Regions from separate parts of the Homo sapiens genome. Here region 2 is linked to region 1. The links come from fine-mapping of genetic effects on gene expression. A gene starts in region 1. The other region holds a variant in brackets. All regions are shown on one strand. Distances are from middle to middle. Region 1 holds the start of GTPBP3 (GTP binding protein 3, mitochondrial). Region 2 has its middle 3.4 kb from the start of NXNL1.

Region 1 (5,357 bases):
AACCCAGCCGTGTCGCTCAGCAGCACAGGAAATCCGGCCAGGTCGACTGGGGTCTCCAGCACGTCACGGGTGGTCCCTGGCTCCGGGGACACGATGGACACAGGCTTCCGACCTGGGGGAGGGTCAGAAGAAGAGGAGAGGGTGGAGACAAGGGAGCTCCTCCCCCAGGTTCTACCCCATGTCTGGAGGGAGCTTTAGACCTGAACAACTAACTCAATAACCCAGCTCTTGGCCCCGCCCCTGGCACTAGGCCCCGCCCCCTTCCCGCCGCCTACTCACTGAGCAGGTTCACTAGGCTGCTCTTGCCCGCATTGGGGGGTCCAGTGACCACTACGTGCACCCCTGAGCGGAGCCTCTGCCCGCGCCTGGCATCTCGTAGATGTGCACCCAGGGCCACCTGCAGTGCCCGTACTTCGATGTCGGCTGTGGGTGAGAGAAGGCAGGCAGAGAGAGACAGTGAGGGGAGCCTTTGAGGGCTGATATGAGGTGTCTTCCTCCCCCACCACCAGGTAGACCCACCTTGCTCCAGGACCCCCTCCTCCAGGTTGTCATCCTCGCCGAAATCGATATAGGCCTCCACGTGGGCCAGAGCCTGGCGGGGCAGGGAGAGCAGAGGTGGTGTGTGCACCCAGAAACCCACCTTCCCACACCCAATTTGTCCAGCCCGACTTCAGGGGCCAGAATGGCGGCTCATAGGCCGGAAGCTTTCACGCAGGGAATGAATGCGGGATTGAGAGGGGGTCTCATGCAGGGGTTGCACAGATGGGGTCTCTGAGGGAGAGAATGGACAAATGGGGGACTTGCTTTGGTGAGGGTCTCGGCCCAGCCACGGCAGAGGTGGCCCAGCTCTCCGTCCAGCTGCCTGAGGGCCTGCCGCCGCTGCGCCTCTGTTTCCGCGTGGATAAGGTCCGCCAGCCCCTCCACTTCGGTCAGGTTCAGCTTCCCATTGGCGAACGCCCGTCTGGTGAACTCGCCTGCCTCCGCCGGTCGAAGCCCTGGCACGCTGCCTGCAGGAAGGTCCCAGTCTGACACCCCCTGGTCCCCACCCAGGCCCATTGGGAGGACCAAGCATCTCACCCAACGCTGCAACTCACCCAAGGCCTGCAGGACGCCGCTCACCACTGCCGGGCCTCCATGCACGTGGAACTCCACGCAGTCCTCACCGGTGAAACTCTGGGGACCTAATGTGACAGACAGGTGACAGGAGGACAGCACAGCCAGTGCAAACCCTTGGAAGGGGGAAACTGAGTCATGGGACCTACAGGAGGCTCGGAACCTGGGGACCCTCACCTGGGAACCAGAGCACCAGTGCGCGGTCCAGAGGCTCCCCGGAGCGGGGATCGCTGAGCAGGCGCAGGCTGGCGTGGCGAGCAAGGGGCAGGTCTCGGGGTGCTGTGAGAATTCGGAGGGCGTGGCCGCTGGCGGGGCCGCTGGTCCGGATCACTGCGATGCCGCAGCGGCCTTGGCCAGAGCTTAGCGCGAAGATGGTGGCGCCGGAGCCGGGGGCTGGTGCGCCGCTGCTCCGGCGCGTGCACAATCTGGAACCGGAGGGGAGGCGAATCAGCGCACCTGGGAGGCTCAGCCTCAGTGTCAAGTAGACCGAGGGCTCGATGATCGCGAGATGCTCCAGGTGGGGGGGTTCTGCGGCTGGGGGATGCACAAATTGGATGTTCTGAAGGCCGAAGGGTGACCGGATTAGGGACTGTGAGGCCAGAAGGAGACCCAGATATGGGCTCTGCCGCAAGGGTCATGAACGATTGAGGCACGGAAGAACGCGAATGATTGCTCTGCCGCAGGGAATTGGGCCCCTAAAACCCAGGGAGTGGGTCTGGGGTCCAAGCAGCACCCCAAGCTGTCGCACCCCTTCCCCTGTAGCCCCACCTGCGAGGCCCACGTGCCGCTTGGGCCGCCAGGGTCCAAAGCCCCCGCCACATGGATTTACAACCTGCGACCCGCCTGCCCGACCTGCCTGTGTGGCTTCAAGTCTGGGCAGGGGGCCCCGCCCACTCCGCGGCTTGACTAGTAAAGTGCTCAACTATTCTCGACCACCATTGGGTATCTTAGGATACGTCCTGCCCACCGTCTGAAGATACTCGCTTCCATTGGCTGGTGCAAGGGAGAGCGGGAGCGGGAGGCGGTATGGAGGTAGGTGTAGCGAAATGTTGTTCCCCGGGCAACATGAGACCAAATTTTTAGGGTCCTAGCGCAGCGAGGCTGACAATAGGAATAAGGAATGGAAGAAAGGACAGAGTTTGGCACAGGGCAGTGCAAATTACAGCGAGGGGAGGTTTTGAGTCCCGCATTTTCCATCTGCTCACTCCGCAGCCTTAGGCGTGGCAAGGACCTATGTGCGTTCAGTTTTCCCGTTCAAGAAAGGAGGGACTACACCTCTTTACGTTCAGGTTCAGACCGGAAACTCAGAGCATCTCGGTGACCGGGAGGGACGAGTACTGGAGAACCCACGCCCTGATCCAGGGAAAATCTTGCCCGAACTTCTGGAAAGAGTCCTACTTGCTTTTTCCGGAACTCTCCAGATTCTCTCCCCTCCCCAGCGTTCCCTTCTGCCGTTCCCTCGGCTTCGGATGCCCTTCCTCATTTGACAAACTCGTCTTCAAGGCCTAGCTCCAAGATCCCCTCCTCCAGGAAGTCTTCCTGGAACCCCCAGCACAGCCCTCTCTCCACTGTGGACTTCCTTGGCTCTCTGTCTCTCTGGTCCAGGTCTGCACCTGCAGAGCCAAGTGTCCGGTCAGTCTCTGGCTCCCCGAAAGCCAGAAAGGGGAGCCTCGGAGATTGCTTTCAGGTTAACCCAGGACAGCACTGAAACTCGGAATAAAGCGCTGATGGTGGAATTCCAGGCACTGGCTGGGCGGGGTCTCCGGGAGCGCCTTCGCATGGCGGATTCTCTGGTTCTGGATCAGAGCGGGCGGGCGGCGCACTTGCGTGTTAAGAAAAATCTGTCTGACAGAATAGAGTTCTAATACCCCCTTACCTCGCCCTGCTCAATATTTTTATTTACTTTATTATTTTATTTTATTTTATTTTTGAGACAGGGTCTCACTCTGTCGCCCAGGCTGGAGTGCAGTGGCGCGATCACGGCTCTTGCAACCTCCAACTTTTGGGCTCAAGGGATCCGCCCGCCTCAGCCTCCTGAGTAGCTGGAACCACAGGCGCGAGCCACCATGCCAGTCTAACTTTTCGGTGTTTCTTTTTGTTTGTTGTTTTTGTTTGTTTGTTTTGTTTTCGTTTTTTTGGTGGAGACGGGGATCTCACTACGTTGCCCAAGCTTTTTTTTTTTTTTTTTTTTTTTTTTGAGACGGGGTCTCGCTCTGTCGCCCAGGCTGGAGTTCAGTGGCGCGATCTAGACTCACTGCAACCTCCGCCTCCCAGGTTCAAGCGATTCTCCTGCCTCAGACTCCCAAGTAGCTGGGACTACAGGCGTGCGCCACCATGCCTGGCTAATTTTTTGTATTTTTAATAGAGACAGGGTTTGGCCATGTTGGTCAGGCTGGTCTCGAACTCCTTGCCTCAGGTGATCTACCCGCCTTGGCCTCCCAAAATGCTGGGATTACAGGCGTGAGCCACTGCGCCCGGCCGAGGCTTTAATATTTTAAGTTGTAAAATAGGAACAAATGATGACATATTTATATTTCATCTGCCATTCTCTAGTTGTTACATCTGTAACAAGCTAGTTATTACATCTGTAACAAGCTAGTTGTTACATCTGTAACAAGCGTACAGCAAGCGCCTACTGTGTGCTCGCATTGAGAACCAGACCTGGCCCCTCGTTCCTACCCTCGCTGGGCTTTCAGTCTAACAGACTGAGCTACTCAGAATAGTCAGGGGTTGGCCAAATGCCAGGTAAAACCCAGGTCGCCCAGCTAAATGTGAATTTCAAATAAACAATGAATAATTTTTTAGTACTAGTATGTCCCATGTAGACATAGGACATAGAAACATTTATGTATGTATGTATATATATGTATTTGAGACAGGGTCTCGTTCTGTCGCCCAGGATGCAGTGCAGTGGGTGTGATCTCAGCTCACTGCAGCCTTGACCTCCTGAGCACAAGCGATTCTCCTGCCTCAGCCTCCCAAGTAGCTGGGATTACAGGTGCGCCCCGCCCAGCTAACATTTATTCTTTTATCTGAAATTTACATTTAACTAGACGGACTGTATTTTTATTTGCTAAACTTGACAACTCTATGGGATCCTCTCCGAGGTTACATCCTGAAGGGAGTCGGTGTTAACCGGACGAAGAGTGCATGAGGAGTGTTCTAGGCAGCCAAATGGTGCGTGCAAAGTTCCTAAGCAGGGCTTGCTGTAATTATGTATCACAGCCCTACTGGGGTGGTTGAAGTTATTGTCACCAGGAATCTTCCCCAACCGGCCCGCCCCTCCCACGTCCTCCCTTAGTCAACTTACGCCCATCTCACATTCCAAACAGCGTCTCCAGGGTCCGGAGTTTGCAGATGGGGAAACTGAGGCTCCGAGGCGGGGACCAGAAGAAAGCATGGGTGGGGACAAGTTGGAGAATGCACCATCAGTGCGGGCGGGGACCAGCAGCAGGGAGCGAGGTAGGCGGGCGAGAAGGAAACCCAGAAAACAACACGGGCGGAGACGCGAACCAAAGAACTAGGCGGGCGAACTCAGCTGAGAACCCTAGAGTGACGTGCATCGGGCCGGGAAGGAGAATCGAGGTTCGGCTCGGGCGGGGACGAGAAGCAGCGCTCGGGCGAGCGAGGACCGAGGCCGGCGCGGGCGGGCGCGGCCTTTGTCTCCTCCTCCCGCGCGCTCCGCGGCTGCACCGGCCCCATGAGCCCGCGGCTCCCCGTCGCCCGGGCCGTCCGTAGCCCCTGACCTGACCTGTCCTCGCCATGGCCGAGGCCGCCTCCGGCGCCGGGGGCACGTCCCTGGAGGGCGAGCGTGGCAAGAGGCCCCCGCCGGAGGGCGAGCCTGCAGCCCCGGCGTCCGGAGTTCTGGGTATGTGTGCGGCGGCTGGACCAGACAGGGTTGCAGGTGCCTGGGGAGCCCGCGTCAACTACACGGGGAGGAGGATCAGGGTCAAACGTAACCTGGCGTGGTGTCTGGACGAGGGGCCGGCTCCTCCCGGCACTGCGGCTGCGGCCCGGCGGGCGGGGCTGGGACGGTGCTTCGGGCTGGGGTCCCGGCGCGGAGACGCGGACACGCCCCTCCGAGAGCCCCAGGCTTGGGCTGCGCCCTGCCACCCCCGGGCTGCGGGATCGCGGCGGGCCAGGGATGTGCTTGAGAGAGCCTCTCCGCGAAGAATACAGAATCATACGGTCCTGGGTTCAAATCCCAGCTTGACTGTGTGACCTTGGGCGCGTGACTTAAACGC
Region 2 (5,367 bases), 130 kb before region 1:
CTCCCAAAGTGCTGGGATTACAGGCATGAGCCACTGAGCCCGGCCTGGGTATTATTTTCTGAGCCCCCTAAAACAGCACGGGTATACAGCAGCCTCTGCCCCCAGTTGTTTTCCTAAAATACAAAATCTCCCAATTCACAAACACAGCTGTCCCCAGGGATTTCAGATGAGGGATTGGGGACTGTCCTATCCCCAGGAAACTGAGATGTGGACCAGGGAGTAAAACTCAGGCTTCCGGGCCAAACTGCTCTCTGCTCGTTTCTAGCCAGGTAGTCTTGGACTGATCACCTCTGTGGGCGGCAAGCCACCCAGGTGCCGAGGCAAGAGACCGAGGGCACAAACTGTTCCAGTATAATAAACAAAATATATAGAATAAGAATAGTTATACAAGAAATAGAATATAGATATGATTATATATGAATATTATTAATCATTCGTTAGTTTGTAGCATTACTCTTTATTCCAATATTAAAATAATCTCTGTTCTACAATTATAACCTAGGAAAAACCAGGCCATACAGAGGTAGGAGCTGAAGGGACACAGTGAGAAGTCACCAGAAGACAAGTGTGAGCCCTCTGTCATGCCCGAACAGGGCCACTAGAGGGCTCCCTGGTCTAGCGGTAACGCCAGCGCCTGGGAAGGCACCCATTACTTAGCCGACCTGGAAAGGGAGTCTCCCTTTCCCCAGGGGAGTTAGAGAAGACTCTGCTCCACCACCTCTTGTGGAAGGCCTGACATTAGTCAGGCCCGCCCGCAGCCATCCAGAGGCCTAAACGTGCCCCTGTGATGCTGTGCTTCAGCGGTCACGCTCCCGTTTACAACATCAGTCATTGGATTTAGGGCCCACTCAGATAATCCAGGATGATGTCATCTCAAGATCCTTAACTAAGTAACACCTGCAAAGACTCCTTCCAAACAAGGTCCCATTAACAGGTTCCGGGGGCGAAGGCATGGATATATCTTTTTGTGGGGAGCCTGTAGTTCAACCCACTACAGAAGGAGGAAAGATGAGAGCTATGGTTCTCAACAGAGGCCACATGGACTTCAAAGATGAAAGTGTTTACCTCCTAGTCCTCTACAGACAAGAGGCACAGAGCCCTGGACTAGAGCTTCTTTCTTTCTTTCTTTCTTTCTTTCTCTCTCTCTCTTTCTTTCTTTTGTCTTTCTATCTTCCTTCCCTCCTTCCTTCCTTCTCTTTCTTTCTTTTCTTTCTTTCTTTTTCTTTTTTTTTGAGACAGAGTCTCACTCTGTCGCCAGGCTGGAGTGCAGTGGCGTGATCTTGGCTCATTGCAACCTCCTCCTGCCGGGTTCAAGCGATTCTCCTGCCTCAGCCTCCCAAGTAGCTGGGACTACAGGCATGTGCCACCATGCCCAGCTAATTTTTGTATTTTTAGTAGAGACAGGGTTTCACCATGTTGGCCAGGATGGTCTTGATCTCTTGACCTCATGATCCACCTGCCTTGGCCTCCCAAAGTGCTGGGATTACAGGCATGAGCTACCGCGCCCCGCCCCTTGTTTCCTTTTTATTGTTGAGACAGGGTCTCAGTCTGTGGCCAAGGTTGGAGTGCAGTGGCACGATCCCAGCTCACTGCAGCCTTGACCTCCTGGGCTCAGGAGGGAGAGGCTCCCACCCCAGCCTCTCGAGTACCTGGAACCACAGGCGTGTGCCACCACACCTGGCTAATTTTTGTAGAGACAGGGTTTTGCCACATTGCCTAGGCTGGTCTTGAACTCCTGGGGTCAAGCTATCTTCCTGCCTTGGCCTGCCAAATTGCTGCGATTACAAGCATGAGCATGAGCCACTGTGCCATACCTAGATCTGCTTGCATTTATTTATTTATTTATTTATTTAGACAGGGTCTCACTCTATTGCCTGGGGGCTGGAGTACAGAGGCATCATCTCAGTTCCCGGCATCCCTGACCTCCCAGGCTCAAGTCATCCTCCAGCCTCAGCACCCTCAAGTAGCTGGGACTACAGGTGCACCACCATGCCCAGATAATTTTTGTATTTTTTTGTAGAGGGGGTTTTGCTATGTTGCCCAGGCTACTCTTGAACTCCTGGGATCAAGAGATCTGATCGCCTCAGCTTCCCAAAGTGCTGGGATTACAGGTATGAGCAAATTTGCCCTGCCTAGATCAGCTTTCTTACATGGGGTCCCAATAGAGTTTCAAGAGTAAAATGAGAGGCAGAAGGAAACTAAAGATACTCTTCAGGCCAGGCACATTACAGCTGTAATCCCAGCACTTTGAGAGGCTAAGGCGGGAGTATCGCTTAAGACCAGGAGTTCCAGATCAGCATGGGCAAAAGAGTGAGACCCGACCTCTACAAAAAAATTTAAAACTAGACGGGCATGCTGGCATGCACCTGTAGTCCCATCTACTCAGGAGGCTGAGGCAGGAGGATCCCATGAGTCCAGGAGGTCAAGACTACAGTAAGCTATGATTGTACCACTGAACTTCAGCCTGAATGATAGATTGAGACCCCGTCTCTGAAAAATAAAATAAAATGAAGACATCTTTGAAACTCACACATTTCACCACATTCTATTTTATTTATTTATTTTTGAGACGGAGTCGTGCTCTGTCTCCCAGGCTGGAGTGCAATGGCACGATCGCAGCTCACTGCAATCTCCGCCTCCCGAATTCAAGCAATTCTCCCACCTCAGCCTCCTGAGTAGCTGGGATTACAGGCACCTGCCACCA[T/C]GCCCAGCTAATTTTTGTATTTTTAGTAGAGACAGGGTTTCACCATTGTTGTCTAGGCTGGTCTCGAACTCCTGACCTCAAGTGATCCGCCTGCCTCAGCCTGCAAAAGTGCTGGGATTACAGGCTGAACCACCGCGCTTAGCCCATTCCACCACATTTGATACGTCAAAGCAAGTCATGAAACCTACCTGGATTCAAGGGGGGGCAGAACTAGTCTCTACCCTTTGACAGGGTTGGAGTTGGAGATGCAAAATATAATATCCATGACTTTCAGCCTTCTACACCTACACATCTACAATCTTAAGGTGTGGGTGGTCCAGACAGAATTCAGGAGGATGGAGAAAAAAAAATACATTTTCTTCTTCTTCTTTCTTCTTCTTCTTCTTCTTCTTTTCTTCTTCTTCTTTTCTTCTTCTTCTCCTTCTCCTTCTCCTTCTCCTTCTCCTTCTCCTTCTCCTTCTCCTTCTCCTTCTCCTTCTCCTTCTCCTTCTCCTTCTCCTTCTCCTTCTCCTTCTCCTTCTCCTTCTCCTTCTTCTTCTTCTTCTTCTTCTTCTTCCTTTCATTTGAGATGGAGTCTCACTCTGTCGCCCAGCCTGGAGTACAGAGGCGCGATCTTGGCTCACTGCAAGCTCCGCTTCCCGGGTTCATGCCATTCTCCTGCCTCAGCCTCCCCAGTAGCTGGGACTACAGGTGCCCGCCACCATGCCCGGCTATTTTTTTTTTGTATTTTTAGTAGAGACAGGGTTTCACCATGTTAGCCAGGATGGTCTCGATCTCCTGACCTCGTGATGCGCCTGCCTTGGCCTCCCAAAGTGCTGGGATTACAGGCATGAGCCACCGCGCCCAGTCCCCCCATTTTGTTTTGTTTTGTTTTTTTAGAGACAGAGTCTGACTCTGTAACCCAGGCTGGAGTGCAGTGGCGTGATCTCAGCTCACTGCAACCTCTGCCTCCCGGGTTTAAGCGATTCTCCTGCCTCAGCCTCCTGAGTACCTAGGATTACAGGAGTGCGCTACCACACCCAGCTAATTTTTGTATTTTTTTAGTGGAGATGTGGTTTCATTATATGTTGGCCAGGCTGGTCTTGAACTCCTGACTTTAGGTGATCCTCCCGCCTCGGCCTCCCAAATTGCTGGGATTACAGGTGTGAGCCACTGTGCCCGGCCCATTTCATTAGCCTCTAACTGGAATTCATCAGGTCCTCTCACTGTGAATGCAGACATTGGCTAGCCCTGGAACTTTGTCCCCTGTGGAAATCAAAGATAATTTCATATCACATCCTGATCATAGGAGACACCCTAAAATATCACAGATGCTCACCCTGACTTAGACCTTGAAGTAACTAGTAGAGTCCATGTGAATCAATGTGATTTAATATATTTATGAAAAGGTGTGGCCAGTTGCATGCTCATGCCTGTAATCCCAGCACTTTGGGAGGCCGAGGCTGGAGGATTGCTTGAGCCCAGGACTTGGAGGCCAGCCTGGGCAACATGGCAAAACCTCATCTCTACTAAAAATACAAAAAATTAGCCAGACGTGGTGGCACAGAACTCTAGTGCCAGCTAACAGGGACGCTGAAATAGAAGGATCGCCCGAGCCCTGGAGGTCAAGGCTGCAGTGAGCCATGATCACACCACTGCACTCCAGCCTGGGCACCTTGACAGAGTGAGACCCAGTCTCAAAAAATATACATACAAAAAAGTCAGATATTAAATTTTTTTATTTTTATTTTGGAGACAGAGTCTCACTCTATCCCCCAGGTTGGAGTGCAGTGGGACAATCTTGTCTCACTGCAGCCTCCGCCTCTTGGGTTCAAGCAATTCTCCTCCCTCAGCCTCCCAAGTAGCTGGGATTACAGGCATGCACCACCACGCCTGGCTAATTTTTGCTTTTTTTTTTTTGAGATGTAGTCTCGCTCTGTTGCCCAGGCTGGATGGAGTGCAGTGGTGCAATCTCAGCTCACTGCAACCTCTGCCTCCCAGGCTCAAGCAGTTCTCCTGCCTTAGCCTCCCGAGTAGCTGGGATTACAGGCATGTGCCATCACGAGCCGCTAATTTTTGTATTTTCAGTAGAGATGGGGTTTCACCATGTTGGCCAGGCTGGTTTCGAACTCCTGACCTCAGGTGATCCGCCTGCCTCAGCCTCCCAAAGCGCTGGGATTACAGGCATGAGCCACCACACCCGGTCTAATTTTTGCTTTTTTTTTTTTTTTGAGACGGAATCTCACTCTGTCACCCAGGCTGGAGTGCAGTGGCGCGGTCTCGGCTCACTGCAAGCTCCACCTCCCGGGTTCACGCCATTCTCCTGCCTCAGCCTCCCGAGTAGCTGGGACTACAGGTGCCCGCCACCACACCCGGCTAATTTTTTTTGTACTTTTAGTAGAGACGGGGTTTCACTGTGTTAGTCAGGATGGTCTCGATCTCCTGACCTTGTGATCCACCTGCCTCAGCCTCCCAAAGTGCTGGGATTACAGGCGTGAGCCACCACACCTGGCCAATTTTTGCATTTTTAGTAGAGATGGGGTTTCTCCATGTTGGCCAGACTGGTCTCGAACTCCTGACTTCAGGTGATCCACCCACCTTGACCTCCCAAAGCTTTGGGATTACAGGCGTGAGCCACCGTGCCCAGCCTATTTTTTATTTTTAGACACTAGGTCTTGCTCTGT

Evidence for each region. PIP is the estimated chance that this variant, and not a neighbour inherited with it, causes the effect.
Region 2: its variant is fine-mapped to the expression of GTPBP3 in cerebral cortex (GTEx, PIP above 0.99).

What each region holds. Positions count from the first base shown.
Region 1 is chr19:17,334,189-17,339,545 of GRCh38, reverse strand. GTPBP3 (GTP binding protein 3, mitochondrial) reads right to left here and starts at 1,993. Exons shown (of 9, transcript NM_032620.4): 1 at 1,882-1,993; 2 at 1,291-1,538; 3 at 1,095-1,181; 4 at 805-1,007; 5 at 520-592; 6 at 280-423; 7 at 1-112. The coding sequence starts at 1,934. ANO8 (anoctamin 8) reads left to right here and starts at 4,691. Exons shown (of 18, transcript NM_020959.3): 1 at 4,691-4,981. The coding sequence starts at 4,876. RefSeq lists enhancers at 1,009-1,680, 1,681-2,352, 2,353-3,024 and a silencer at 4,749-5,188.
Region 2 is chr19:17,461,666-17,467,032 of GRCh38, reverse strand. No RefSeq gene overlaps it. Among named protein-coding and RNA genes, the nearest start is that of NXNL1, 3.4 kb to the right of the region's middle. RefSeq lists an enhancer at 496-545. The variant T/C (reference allele first, on the strand shown) is at 2,705.